2 linked regions of the Homo sapiens genome follow. The protein of the gene in region 1 interacts with the protein of each later gene in a pairwise test. Each region holds a gene or a part of one and is shown on either strand. Other genes may lie near its edges. The genes, in order: OTUD7B and CDIP1.

What was found.
Region 2: the proteins of OTUD7B (region 1) and CDIP1 interact in binary tests that used the Homo sapiens proteins (3 or more experiments, as listed by UniProt).

The regions. Positions count from the first base shown.
Region 1 is NC_000001.11:149,965,555-149,972,823, reverse strand, and holds part of OTUD7B (OTU domain-containing protein 7B), read left to right. Parts: intron 1-1,572; coding exon 1,573-1,761; intron 1,762-5,302; coding exon 5,303-5,530; intron 5,531-6,945; coding exon 6,946-7,047; intron 7,048-7,269. UniProt on the Homo sapiens protein: Negative regulator of the non-canonical NF-kappa-B pathway that acts by mediating deubiquitination of TRAF3, an inhibitor of the NF-kappa-B pathway, thereby acting as a negative regulator of B-cell responses.
Region 2 is NC_000016.10:4,535,562-4,543,725, reverse strand, and holds the start of CDIP1 (cell death-inducing p53-target protein 1), read left to right. Parts: upstream 1-4,952; 5' UTR 4,953-5,024; exon of another isoform or gene 5,025-5,125; intron 5,126-5,296; exon of another isoform or gene 5,297-5,401; intron 5,402-8,164. UniProt on the Homo sapiens protein: Acts as an important p53/TP53-apoptotic effector. Regulates TNF-alpha-mediated apoptosis in a p53/TP53-dependent manner.

The sequences.
Region 1 (7,269 bases):
TTGGAAGTATAGATCCGATGCTCAAGGCAGATGTCACTCGTTCATGCATTGATTCAGGAGAAGAGTTATCCATTAATTCAACAAATATTTATTGAGTGACTACTGTGTGCCAGGTACTGTTCTAGATGCTCCAACAAAACAAAACAAACAAAAATACCTGCCTTCATGTTCTAGCAGGAGAGAGGGTCAATAAACAACAAATGTGATAACTAAGTAAATTATAAAGTATATTATAAACTGTTAAGTGCTATGGAGAAGAGTAAAGGGAATGATGAAGTGGGTTGTGATTTTTAAGTCAGGGTAGGCCTTACTAACAATGTGATGTTTAAGCAAATACCTAAAGCTAATGAGGAGTTGTCTGTGTGGATATATTGGGGAAAGAGCCTTCTAGGTAGAGGGAATAGTCAGTGGAAAGGCCCTAGAGTGAGAGTGGACTTAGCATGTTCTAGGAACAGCAAGGTCAGTGATGACTGGAACAGAGTGAGCAAAGGGAGTCAGAACAATTGGCTAATGTAATGATTTAGAAGTAAAATCATCAGTAATGATTTAGACGTAAAATTGTGAGTAAAACCAACCACTATTCTAAGTGCTTTCAACTCATCTAATCTTCATAACAGCTCTATGAGGTAGGCACTGCTACTATCATCTGCATTTTCACGGATAAGGAAATTGAAGCACAGAGAAGAGGCCAGAAAAGTAGGCCAGGACATACAAAGCCTTGAGTATCAAGCCAAAGAGCCTGAGTTTTATTCTGTAGGCAGTGGTAAGCCATTAAAAATCTCGATTATGGAACTAAAATGATCACAACTGTGCTTTAGAAAGATTAATCTCATGGGATTCTTTGGAATGGATCGGAGGTAGGACAGTAGGTGATAGGAATTGAATTAAGGTGGTAGTAGATGGAATACAACAGAAAGAAATGTGAGCAATTATACAATGCATATTTGTTGAATAATTTAGCTGGAGAAAGCATCAGAAAAATCCATTATGACAAATCTTATCATTTAAGGTCATTTCTTTAGTAGAATGGTGATTCTTAAATTTGGGGGAAACACTGTTTCCTTTGAAAAGCTGATGACAGCTATGAACTCTTTCACTAGAAAATGCACAAGCCCATGATCTTATATGCAGGTTTAGTGGTTTAGGACACACTAGAGTACATGTAGGCTAAGAACCTCTTTGGATCTCAGAATTAGGAGACCTGGGCCTGAGTCCTGCTGGGTCTGGTGTGAACTAGCTGTGACTTTGGGCAAATAATTTACTTCTCTAGACTTTATCTGTAAAAGGAAGTTTTAATTTTCGGTTACTAGATCTTTAAGGGCTCTTTTAGTTCAGAGGGACAAAGTTTCTATTTTCATGGCACTTACTTAGGAAATAGACAACAAATAAGTAAGTAAAGACATTTGATAAGTTAGATTGAAGTGTTATAAAGAAAATTAAAGCAGGGTAAGGAAAAGAAGAATGATTATGTGCATGCGTATTTGCATACTGGTTTTGATAGGATAGTTAGTGTGATCTTTGTGTCTCTATACTATGGTTGCACAGTTTGCTTTTTGCTTTGTCTCCTGACAGGAAAGAATTGGGATGTGAATGCCGCCCTCAGTGATTTTGAACAGCTACGTCAAGTCCATGCTGGAAACCTACCCCCATCCTTTAGTGAGGGGAGTGGTGGCTCCAGGACCCCTGAAAAAGGGTTTTCTGACAGAGAGCCTACTCGCCCTCCCCGACCCATCCTCCAGCGGCAGGATGACATCGTTCAAGGTACTGGGGTGACTGGAATGTTTCCGTATATGGAGTAGGAAGGGAGGGGATTGTTAAATGGAGTCATAAAGTCTAGTGATCCATTGGAGGTGATTCCATTTCTTCCCCTTCTCCCAGCCAAACCCAGACTGAGGTGGCCTCAGTCTGCCCAGGTGCTGCAGTCCCTCACTGCGTCTCTGCATCTTTAGTGTTATCCTGTATAAAAGCCTTCCTCAGATACTGTGAAAGAAATAGAGGAAGGAGGATAACAATCTCCTTGTTGATATAAAGTTCACATAAAGGTAGAATTGAAAGAGTCATTACCTCTTTGGGGGGTAATTTGTTAATATTTGCCAATATCTATCAAAATTAAAATGCATATGTACTCTGACTTAGCAATTTCATATCTAGCAATTTATCATATATGTGTATGTGCACATAAGTATTCTCTAAATAAATACATAAGGCCAGGTGCAGTGGCTCACACCTGTAATCCCAGCACTTTGGGAGGTCGAGGTGGGTGGATCACCTGAGGTCAGGAGTTCGAGACCAGTCTGGCCAACATGGTAAAACCCCATCTCTATTAAAAATACAAACATTAGCTGGGCGTGGTGGTACATGCCTATAATCCCAGCTACTTGGGAGGCTGAGGCAGGAGAATTGCTTGAACTTGGGAGGTGGAGGTTGCAGTGAACTGAGATTACACCACTGCACTCCAGCCTGGGTGACACAGTGAGACTCTGTCTACAAAAAAAAAAATAAATAAATGAATAAAAATTAAAAAAAGAAATACATAAATGCAGCATATAAGGATATTCACAGCAGCATTATTTTACAATAATTAAATCTTGAAACTTTTTTTTTTTCTTGAGGCAATCCATCTGACTTGGCCCCCCAAAGTGCTGGGATTACAGGTGTGAGCCACTGCACCTGGCCCTGAAAACATTTAATGTCCATTAGTAAAGGAATGGTTAAGTAAATTGTAATCATCCATGTTGTGGAATACTCTGCAATCATTAGAAAGAATTAGGCAGAACTTGGTGTACTGTTTTGGAAAAATTTCTAAAATCTATTCAGAAGGGGGCTGGGCATGATGGCTCACACCTGTAATCCCAGCACTTTTGGAGACCAAGGCTGGTGGATCACCTGAGGTCAGGAGTTCGAGACCAGCCTGGCCTACATGGTGAAACCCTGTCTCTGCTAAAATTACAAAAATTAGCTGGGCATGGTGGTGCACACCTGTAATCCCAGCTACTTGGGAGGCTGAGGCAGGAGACTTGCTTAAGCCCAGGAGGCAGAGGTTGTAGTAAACCTCTTAGATTGCACCACTGCTCTCCAGCCTGGGTGACGGAGTGAGACTCCATATAAAAAAATATATAATTTTTTTCAAAAAGGTAAGACACAATGCAATGTATGTAGTATACTCTCATTTGCGTTTTAAAAGATGATTTTAAAAGCTGTACATGCATTTTTAGTGGAGATGGGGTTTCACCGTATTAGCCAGGATGGTGTCGATCTCCTGACCTTGTGATCCACCTGCCTCGGCCTCCCAAAGTGTTGGGATTACAGGCGTGAGCCATCGTGCCCGGCCAAAACCTGTATATGCTTCTGTATGCATAAAAATTTCTAGAAGGATACAAAAGTTTGCCTCTGGGGAAGGGATCAGGAATTTTGAATGATAAGAAGACTTCCTTGTGAAATCATTTTATACCTTTTGATGGTATATTGATTTTTTACCATAGGCACATGGTACTGTTTTTGAGGCAGGGTCTTGCTCTGTCCTCCAAGGCTGGAGTGAGGCTGGTGGAACACAGCTCACTACAGCCTAAACCTCCTAGGCTCAAGGGATCCTACTGCCTCAGCCTCCCAAGTAGCTGGGAGCATGGGCACGCACCACCTCACCTAGCTAAATTTTTGATTCTTTGTAGAAATTAGGTCTCACTCTGTTGCCCAGGTGGTCTCGAATTCCTGGGCTCAAGTGATCCTTCTACCTTGGCTTCCCAAAGTTTTGGGATTACAGGTGTGAGCCACCATGCTCAGCCTACGAATACCTAAAAAATATTTTTAAGGTGGGTGTGGTGGCTCACGCCTGTAATCCCAGCACTTTGGGAGGCCAAGGCTGGCAGATCACCTGAGGCCAGGAGTTTGAGGAGAACAGCCTGACCAATGTGGAGAAACCCCGTCTCTGCTAAAATAAAAAAAAAAATTAGCTGGGTGTGGTGGCGTGTGCCTGTAATCCTAGCTACTCAGAAGGCTGAGGCAGGAGAATCCCTTGAACCTGGGAGGCAGAGGTTGCAGTGAGCCGAGACTGCAGCACTGCACTCCAGCCTGAGCGACAGAGCGAGACTCTGTCTCAAAGAACAAAAACAAACAAAACTAAAAAATATTTGAAAAATAACATCACTATAAGATAACTTTAGACAACTCAGTTTATTTTGTGTATCATATCTGGCAAATGTTGTATTAAGAACAGCCCAACATGCTTTTGAAATTTTGCCCCCTTTGGATCATCATTAAATCATTACATAATTGAAGCCATACAAATGAACTGTAATACTACATTGAGCAAATTATAATCACAGTGGAATATCTGCTTGGGAATTACAAGTGTCATGTATTCAAAACAAATGAAATGATGTGGGGTACTATCTACATTATTGTTCTCTATAGACTGTTAAGAATTGACTGTCCCTATAAATTTCTGATAAATATGGGTATTGAGAGTAGTTGTAGTAAGCAATATAAATTAATGTTATTGATGTAGGAAGAAAGTTCCCAAATGTGTAAGATTTGTTGTTGATTGTCTTTTTTTTTTTTTTTTGAAACGGGGTCTTGCTCTGTTGTCAGGCAGGAGTGCAGTGGCACAATCTTGGCTCACTGCAGCCTCCGCCTCCCAGGTTCAAGCAATTCTCCCACCTCAGCCTCCCGAGTAGCTGGGATTATAGGGGCACACCACCATGCCCGGCTAATTTTTGTATTTTTAGTAGAGACAGTGTTTCACCACGTTGGTCAGGCTGCTCTTGAACACCTGACCTCAGGTGATCCACCTGCCTTGGCCTCCCAAAGGATTTTCTTTTCTATAATGGATTTCTTTTATAATCTTTCTAGAATGAAAATACCCTTTAGAAAAGGTATTTCCCAAGACCCTGAGAATTACCAGAGAGGTTATTTGACTAACTCTAGTCTAGTGAAACCTCACTTCCCTTATTCCCTCTCCTCCCACCAAACAATGACCAAATTGCTAAATGAATGGGTCCCTATCACACTGGGAAATATGGAAGTGGAGGAAGACAGTCAGAGGGAGGGGAAGATCAGGCAAATTCCAAACAAGGGCAGAAAGAGGAATGAATAATTTGGTGCTAATGTGAGTGCCTACAAAAATACTGTCTCTATTTCTCCAATTGTATTTGGCTTCAGAAAAAGGGTTCTGAAATTCAGTAGTCAGTTAGACTTAGTTTTTCTCTGACTGTAAACCCTGTTGAGAGGTAACTATCACCACATCAGTGTAGAGTTCTCCAAGTGGGCTGTGTATGTTCTAAGGTGACTCCATTTCTCATTGCAGAAAAACGCCTGTCTAGGGGCATCTCCCACGCCAGCTCCAGCATTGTTTCCCTGGCCCGGTCCCATGTCTCCTCCAATGGTGGGGGTGGGGGGAGCAATGAGCACCCCCTGGAAATGCCCATCTGTGCCTTCCAGCTTCCAGATCTCACTGTATACAATGAAGACTTCCGCAGCTTCATAGAGAGAGACCTCATTGAGCAGTCCATGCTGGTTGCCTTGGAACAGGCAGGTCAGTGAGTGCTTCCTCTCCCACACTCTTCCCTCTACTCTCCACCTACAGGCAGCCTTGTGGAGGGGCTGGACTTGATCGCTAGCTTCCAGTTTAAGTGTGTTATCTGATTGCAAAGTCAGGAGTCAGTGGGATAAACTTGTGCTGTCAAAGAATGGATACAGATTAGATACTTTACTCTGGGAATTTCCTGGTTGATGGAAGAGAAACCAGATACACATGTGAAAAGGCCTAGGAATCAATACCTCGAAATCAATACATGAAAAAAATACAACTAATTATAATTGGCCCTGGAACACCCTTGTGAACAGAAATGACCAATGCTGTAGATGATGCACAGTAGTGAACCTATCCCCCCAAATGTATTTACGTTTGTAATTGTGTTTATCTTAAATTATTGTTAAAATTAATTCTTATCATAGGGTGAGGCAGCTGGGAATTTTGGAAAAGCTAATCAGGCATTAAAATGCTTGTGTGGGATAAGAACTGGAGTTAGATGAGGGCATGGAAAGGAAGCTTTTATTTTTCATTTTGTAACCTTCTATATTAACCATATACATCTATTTGTAATTTTTTTTTAAGTTGGTAAATTATCTGGTCTGGGGAGTTTATAAGCCAGTTTTTCATTCAGTAGTTCAAAAACTATGCTCCACAGTAGTTCAAGAAAACTTATGCATCACTCATAAGATATTTTCCTCATGTAAATAATGGGTTGGCAATTGTGGGATGACTGCATGGAATTAAGACTTATTTTCTTGGATATTTTATGTACTTTATCTTATTGCTCATTCCTTTAAAGTCACACCCCACACGTGATGACATGCTGTCATATATGCAGATGATACTCATAAAACACCTTAAATACATGCTTTGAGTTGTTTTTGTTTTGTTCATGATGGATTTTTGCTGAGCTTTGTTGCTGTGATACATACTGGTCTCCTGAGTGGAGGGAAGGAATCAGGGCCAGTCCAAGCAGTCAACAGTTTCAACTTATGTCCTTGGCCTCGTCATTTAACCCAGGGTTTCTCAACCTTGGCACTATTGACATTTTGGTCTAGATAATTCTTTGTTTTGCAAGCTGCCTTGTGCATTATATCATGGTTAGCAGCATCCCTGGCCTCTACCCATTAGATACCAGTAGCATCCTGCTACCAGTTGTGACATGCAAACATATCTTCAGTCATTGCCAGTGTCCCTTTGGGACAAAATTGACCCTACTCACTGATCTAACCAATTGTGCTCACAAGATTCTGACTGACTAGATATAAGTGAGGAAGATATAAAGAGTAATCAAGTGATGGTTTTATTCTGGGTAGGCCTCCTAGAGGAGGCTGCTTTGGAGTCTGTTTCAGAAATAGGAAGGTGGAAGGGCTTCATGGATAATCTCCTTTTCCTCCACTATCTTGTTTCTACAGGGCGTTTGAACTGGTGGGTGAGTGTGGATCCCACCTCTCAGAGGCTGCTTCCTTTGGCAACTACTGGAGATGGGAACTGCCTCCTGCATGCAGCCTCCCTTGGTGAGTCTTGAAAGCAGTCCTCCATTCACCTGCAGAAAGGAAGCAGTTGAGTCAAATCTCATGTGTAGGACTTGATCCAGATAACCTTGATCTTAGGCGGAAATGATGGTTCAGAGCGAGATTGTGCATGCTTACGTGTGTGTCTGTGTGTTTATGTTGGCACAAGAGGAAATGGGAGTGAGCCCTACCTTTGCTAGTGAGATAGTGAAGAGAGCACAGATA
Region 2 (8,164 bases), on another chromosome or scaffold:
CTGCAGGGAGCCAAGATCGCGCCACTGCAATCTCTGTCCCAAAATAAAATAAAATTTAAATAAAAATAAAAACAAAGATAAATAAATAAAATACGGATCATGGCTAGGTATGGTGACTCATGCCTGTAATCGCAGCACTTTGGGTGGCCAAGGTGAGAGGATCACTTGAGCCTAGGAGTTCAAGACCAGCCTGGCAACCTAGTGAGACCCTGTTTCTATTTTAATATAAATTAATTAATTAATTAAAATAAAACAAGAATCTAGTCATATTACTCAGCCCAAAATTCTCAACATTACATCACCCACTACCTACCCAATAGGATACAGTCTAAATTCCACAGATTGGTCTATAAGGCCCTCATGTTTCCTCACCCTCTGCCCTCCTCTTTCATATCCTACCACCCAACCATACAGAACTGCTTGCATTTCCCCACACACTCTGTGTTTCATTTCTCTGCAACTTTGCATTAGCAGCTCTAACTACTTGGAGTACCCTACCCCACTTCTTTCACCTGGGGAATCCTACACATCCTTCAAGCCCCAACTTAAACGTCCTCCTCTCTGAAGCCTTCCTTGTTCGGGCACTCCCTCTCCTGAACTCTCAAAGCACTCTGTTTTGACATCTTGAACATAAGCTATTATATTAGTCTCCCGTGCTGGACTGTGTGCGCTTTGAGGACAGAGATGGGGCTTTATTCCATTTTGTGTATTTCCAGGCCTAGAACAGGACCTTGCTTGGTCAAATGAGTAAATGAATAAATATTCTAGATCTGTGCTGTCCAATACAGTAGCCACAAGCCATATGTGGCTACTGAGCCCCTGAAATGTGACTGCTCCAAATTGAGATGTCCTGTAAATATAAAGTACACACTGCATTTCAAAAACAGTGTGAAAAAAGAGTAAAATATATCATTGATAATTTTTTTTTTTGAGACAAAGTTTTGCTTGTCGCCCAGGCTGGAGTGCAATGGTGTGATCTTGCCTCACTGCAACCTCCGCCTCCCAGTTGAAGCTATTCTCCTGCCTCAGCCTCCCGAGTAGCTGGGATTACAGGCGCCTGCCACCATGTCAAGCTAATTTTTTGTATTTTTAGTAGAGACGGGGTTTCACTATATTGGCCAGGCTGGTCTTGAACTCCTGACCTCAGGTGATCTGCCCACCTTGGCCTCCCAAAGTGCTGGGATTACAGGCATGAGCCACTGCGCCTGGCTGATAATTTTTTATGTTGATTACTGAAACAATATTTTGCATATATTGAGTTAAATGTATTATTAAAATTAATTTCACCTGTGTCTTTTTATACTTTTAATGTGGTTACTGGGAAATTTTTATTTTCAAATTTTTATTTATTTATTTTTTTAGAGACTGAGTCTAACTCTGTTGCTCAAGCTGGACTGCAATGGCGCAATTCTTGCTCACTGCAGTCTCAAACTCCTGGGCTCAAGTGATCCTCCTGCCTCAGCCTCCTGAGTAGGTGGGACTATGGGCATGAGCCACCACAGCTGGCTAATTTTTTAATTTTATAAATTTTTTTGTAGAGATGGGAGACTCACTATGTTGCTCAGGCTAGTCTCAAACTCTTGAACTCAATCTCCCAAAATGTTGGTATTACAGGTGTGAGCCACAGGGACCAGCCTGGAAATTTCTGGATTACATATGTGCTGGTCGCCCAGCCTTCTATTTGCCTCTCTTGGTCTAAACCATTCTCCACACTGTAGTCAGATGATCCTGTGAAATGTCAATCGAATCATATAAGTGGCCACAAACACTGAATTAAGCAAACACTGAACCACTGCTTCTGGGGGAACAACCTAGGTTCCTGTGAGCCTGTGGACACAACATTTTTGTCAACCAATCAATAACCTTGTTTATAGGTGTTTCTGTTTAAAGGCAACTTAGTTAATATACACTGTTGATTCAGTGCAATTGAACTCAATTGCCTGCACCAAGCTAACTGAGCACAGCTGTTTTCTCTATAAGGCAAATCACCACCTTCTTGCACTGAGGAATGCTAGACAGCACTTCTGCACAACACTAAGGGCCATTTTAAACACCAGAATCACCAATAAAAAGCGTAAAAATAAATGAGAAAAAGATGACACTAAATAGACCAAAAAGGAGACTTGTAGGCAGCGCTGCCCTATTATTTTTAGAGACAGGGTCTCACTCTGTTGCCCAGGCTGGAGTGCAGTGGCACAATCCCAGCTCACAGCAGCCTCGACCTGCTGGGCTGAAGGGATCCTCCCACCTCAGCCTCCCGAGTGGCTGGGATAGAAGGCGAGTGCCACCATGACAGCCCAGTGTTGCCTTATTTGACCTCAGTGGAGAATGTGCAGGATCGTTATGTCCATGAATGAATGAGAAAGCACCACAAGTATTGATTTTGGGATTAGAAATAAATGTTAGTGAGTAGGCAAATTTGCAAACACAAAATCCATAAATAATGAAGATTGACTGTAACTCTACTGCTTAAAACTCTTCAAGGGCTTTAAATTCCACTTGAAATAAAATCCAGGCCGGGCGCGGTGGCTCACGCCTGTAATCCCAGCACTTTGGGAGGCAGAGGCGGGCGGATCACGAGGTGAGGAGATCGACACCAGCCTGACCAACATAGTGAAACTCAGTCTCTACTAAAAATACAAAAATTAGCCAGGCGTGGTAGCAGGTACCTATAGTCCTAGCTCCTCAGGAGGCTGAGGCAGGAGAATTGCTTGAACCTGGGAGACGGAGGTTGCAGTGAGCCGAGATCGAGCCACTGCACTCCAGCCTGGTGACAGAGCGAGACTCCATCTAAAAAAAAAAAAAAATCCAAACTGCAGACAGGTATGGTGGCTTATGCCTGTAATCCCAGCTACTTGGGAGGCTGAGGCAGGAGGACTGCTTGAGCCTAGGAGTTGTCACAGTGAGCTATGATCATGCCACTGTACTCCAGCCTGGGTGCCTGATCAAGATCCTATCTCAAAAAAAAAAGAAAGAAGAATCCAGAGTTTTATTTTATTTTGAGAGAGTTTTGCTCTGTCTCCCAGGCTGGAGAGCAGTGGTGTGATCTTGGCTCACTGCAACCTCTGCCTCCTAGGTTCAAGCAATTCTCCTGCCTCAGCCTCCCGAATAGCTGGGATTACAGGCGTGTATGCCGGGCTAATTTTTGTATTTTTAGTAGAGACGGGGTTTCACTGTGTTGGCCAGGCTGGTCTCAAACTCCTGACCTCAAGTGATCTGCCTGCCTCGGCCTCCCAAAGTGCTGGGGTTACAGGCATGAGCCACCACGCCTGGCCAGAGTTCTTAAAATGACCTACAAATCTCAACATGACTTGGATCCAGCCTGCCCCACTGACATCCTCACCTTTCTGACTCTCTCACCCAAGGCAATCCCTCCCTCTGGAATGCCCTTCCAGAATAGAATGTCTTTTCAATTTCATGCCCCTGCCTCAGCATCGCCTCCTCTGAGAGGCCTTTTCTAACCAACCTGTCTAGTGGCACCACCCCGTAACTCTGTTAGGGCGTCCCTTCCTCTCCTTCACAGTCCTGGGCATTTTGTGGTTTCCTTGTATACTGTCTGTAACAAAGGAAGTACCTGAGCAAGTAGCCACCCAGTGGGTTCTTCTTCCTGGCTGCCCAGATAGAGCCAATGTATCAAGACAGGGGAACTGCAATAGAGAAAGAGTTTAATCCACACAGAGCTGGCTGAATGGGAGACCAAAGTTTCATTACTCAAATCAGTCTCCCTGGAAATTCAGAGCCTAGAGTTTTTAAAGGGTAATTTGGTAGATAAGCTGCCAAGGAGTAGGGAGTGCTGATTGGTGGGGTGGGAGATGAAATCACAGGGTGTTGAAGGATGCAAGAACTGGTTGAGTCAGATTACAGCTCTAGGTGGCCTTGGCTGGTGCATCAGACTGCAGGGTCAGAAAAACACCTAAGAGTACCAATCTTAGGTTTTACAATAGTGATATTATACCTAGGATCAACTGGGGAGGTTTAGAATCTTGTGGCCTCTGGGTGCATGACTCCTAAACCGTAATTTCTTTCTTTCTTTCTTTTTTTGAGATGGAGTCTCAGTCTCTTGCTCAGGCTGGAGTGCAGAGGCATAATCTCAGCTCACTGCAACCTCCATCTCTCGGGTTCAAGCAATTTTTGGGCTTCAGCCTCCCTAGTAGTTGGGATTACAGGTGCGTGCCACCATACCCGGCTAATTTTTGTATTTTTAAATAGAGACATGGTTTCACCATGTTGGCCAGGCTGGTCTCAAACTCCTGACCTCAAGTGATCCACCTGCGTCAGCCTTCCAAAGTGCTGGGATTACAGGCGTTAGCCACTGAGCTGGGCCCTAAACTATAATGTCTAATCTTGTAGCTAACGTGTTACTCTTACAAAGGAAGCCTGGTTCTCAGGCAACAAGGGGGTTTGTTTTGGGAAAGGGCTGTTAACTATCTTTGTTTCAATATTAAACTATAAACTAAGTTGCTCCCAAAGTTAGTTCTGCCTATGCCTAGGAATGAACAAGGACAACCTGGAGGTTAGAAGCAAGATGGAGTGGGTTAGGTCAGCTCTCTTTCACTGTCATAATTTTCTGTTGTAATTTTTGCAAAGGCAGTTTCAAGCGCAGGGACAGTGACCGTGTGGTTCAAGGTTTTATGTAATGCACCTCCCAAACTCAATAAATATTAGTCGCATAAAAGAAAAAATGCAGCCCTGGAGGAAGATGCCCTGCCCTGTTGCTGGCATGAGTGAAGAGGAGGCGCTCACAGGGACGGTTCTTTCCCTATTCTCCAGCCTCGTGTACATTGGGCAAACAGGCCCCGACCATCCCACGTGCTCAGCCCCAGCTCTAGGCCAAATCGCCTCCGCTCCCACTGACGTCATCACGGCGCATCACGTGCCTCCCGAGACCCCACCCCCCACCGTGACGTCCCGGGCCTCGGCCCTGGTCCAAAGTCTACCCGCCTCCTTGTGACAGAAGTGCGACTGCCAGCTGCCGAGGCGTTCGGTCCTGCTGTTGCGGCCGCTGCCCCAGGGCTGCGGGGACGGTGAGTCGACTGGACGCATTCGGAGACGGCTTCGCGCGGGAGCCCTCCTCCCCGGGGGAAGGGTCTGGGCGCCAGCTCTCCTCAGGTCGGGGCGTGACCTCGGACCGTGGCGCCCCCTCCCCGCCCCCGCCCGCGGCGCCTGGGCGGTGCATGCCGGGCACCGTAGTCCCCAGCCTCTCAGAGCGGGTTGTGGTGGGGGGGGTGACCGGGCGGACTACAAGTCCTAGAAGCCTCTGGGCGGTGGGGTGGGCGGTGGGTTGGGGGGTTTCGTTGTGCGCGCAAAGCCGCGCGGGGCTGAGGGTCTTGTTCTGCCGGCGCCTGTCCGGACCCGGGCCCCTCTCCGCTTTCGGCCGGCCTCGGGCACCGGGCTTCTGGAGGTAAAGCGGGGCCGGCGGTTGGGGCGCGGCATGGCGGGGCCCGTCCTCCCCTCAGGGCGCTGCCGAGACCTAGCGCGGCCCTGGGGATGTCGAAGCCGCTGCGGTGGCGGGGCCCGGGCGGGCGCCCCGCTGTGTGCCGCGGGGTTGTGCGCCCGGAATGGCAGCCTGCTCGCCCGCACGTTTTTCCGTCAGGGAAGGTTGTGGAAATTGCCATCTCCGTCTTGCAGGGCGAGACGGGGAGGGGAGGGGTGGGAGTTGTTTTCTCAAGGAAAGGGGGTCGAGGAGGAGCCCCGTGGCCGAGCCAGCCCCTGCCGAGCCCCGCGGGTGACCTTGGCCGTCCCGGAGCCCAGCAGTGTCCTGCACCCGCGCCCGGCTCGCCGACGTGTGGAGTCGGGATGTGGCGCTCGGCCGCGCATCCCCGGCGGAGATGGCGACGGCCTGGCCTAGCTTGGGGCTAGGAGTCGCGCCTTCGAGGACCTTGGCTTAGCGAGTTCCTTGGGGGGCTTCTCAACAGGTGTTAGATGAGGTGGGGCGAGTGGCTGTGAGTTCCTCCAAAGGTGGGCTCAAGATCCTCTGCGTCAGAACCACCTGGGGCTCTTGGGAAACGGGCAGATTCCTGGGGCCCACCCCAGGTGTTGGGATGCTGTAGTTCCGTCGCGCTGCCCAGGAATCTGCATTTAGTAGGCTCCCCAGATCATTCCCGGGCGCAGCTGGGGCTGAGAACCTGTCCCAGTGAGGGGGTTGGCGGGCCCGGGGGCAGGGACGTTCCATAGTGTTTCTGCCAGTTTCTTCTGTATTCTGGGGCCTGATGCTGGGCGGGGCGGTGCCCGGGCAAGTTACTGCTCTCCTGGGTTCTTTGCTGCTTCCCTTGGGGCCGATCTAGGTAGAACTGGGTGGAGGGAGGCGTGCCAGCTCTGCCTTGCCCTCTGCCCTTAATCGGAAAGGTTATGCCCAGTCACTTGCCAGTCTCAGAAGACTCCCCCTCTACACATTCAGTTACGAAAAACGTGAAACATACAAAAGTTGAAGGAATTTTACAGTGAACACCCACAGACCACCACCTAGAATGTAGAGTTAACACTTTATTGTATTTCATCACATATTTGTCCAACCAGCAGTCCCTCTTGTTTTTTGTGTCAAAGTAAGTTGCAGATATCAGTGCCTTTCCCTCCCAAATAAGCATGCATGTCATTAATTAGAGTCTTAGAATTGTTGTTTATTGGGTTTGACTTTTTTATCTTCTTAATGGTTTTTACCTTAATGGAAGCCCTGGGTATTTAGAAATCCGTCTCTCACCCTTGAGAATTTGAAGGAGTTCGGAGGTTTTCCACAGGATGGGAGAACCAGGGAAGAGCTTTACAGGTTCTCTTACAAAGGTTCATTTATTTATTTAGAGCCAGGGTCTTGCTCTGTGGCCCAGGCTGGAGTGCAGCGGTGCCGTCACGACGTTCACTGCAGCCTTGAACTCCTTGTCTCCAGCGATCCTCCTGAGTACCTGGAACTACAGGCATGCCCCACCATGCCCGGCTAATTTTTTTTTTTTTTTTTTTTTGTAGAGATGGCATGTCATTATTTTGCCCAGCTGGTCTCTAACTCCTGGGCTCAAGTGATCCTCTTGCCTCACCCTCCCAAAGTGCTGGGATTACAGGCAGGAGCTACCGTGCCCAAGTTCTTACAAGGATTTAAGAGCAGCCAGCCGTGGTTCTAGAATCACCATAAGAGCAGAACATTGACTGTATGATGTAAAGTAATACTTCAGGGAACAAAATTGTTTTGAGAAGGAGCTAACGGAATGCGTCCCGAAGGCCAGCTTGCCCCAGCAGATCACGTTGGCAATAATTGAAGCTAGTCATCAGCTTGCAACTCCCTGTCGGCTCTTTACACTGTAAGCTTGTCCAGGTTGAACCTACCAGTTCAGTGTGTGTTTTCTAAGGTCTAGGGGAACTGGGGTGTGTAGTGCAATTTAGCTCATGGTGTTGATGGACTAGAGGCCGTGGCTTTGAGACCCTTGGGCCCAGGTACTTTGTTCCTTAGCCACAAACACCAGCCCTTCACCCTACTCAGTTGCCTGAGTGGGAGAGAAAAGATAGGCCCTGTGAAAATTTGTCTCCACTTTGAGGAACATGGTTCCAAGGGTAAGGACATGTTTTTACTCATAGAAGACACAGGGAAATATGGTAGTTAAAGTTGTGGCATTTTATAGCATGTCACTGTCCTGTAGGTGGAGGAAGTGCTGGTGAGAAGGTGGCAGGCAGGGAGAGCTCTGCAGAGGACCTTGGCGCTCCATGGGGAGGATGGAGAGAGAGAGCCAGGCCGGCAGTGGTGACAGGAGGTTCCCTTTCCCCCACGAGGGGACTTGGAAATAGATTACTCAAAATGGAAATGTGCCCCTTTCTAGGATCCCACAAAAAGTTTCTGTTTCTGTCTCTGCCTAGTCAGGAGTCTCCAAGCCACAGTCTCTGTGGGAGGTGGTAAAGGCTACCTTGCAATACAGTGCAGCAGAGGTGGAGGCGCCTAGGGCCTGGGCCAGAACCTCCCCATGCCCAGAGGGCTGTCCACTCTTGGAGACACTGGTCTGGTGGCTCCTGAACCCGTGGGCCTGATGGCCCCGGTCACCACTTCTCCTACTCTGTGAGTCATCAGGCAGTGGTCCATGACATTGGTGGTGTCCTGGGACCAGGGCTGCCTAGACGTGGAGACCTCTCTGTCATGTTGAAGCTGTGTGACAGACAGGCCTTGCTGGCCGCGTCTGTGATAGGTGAA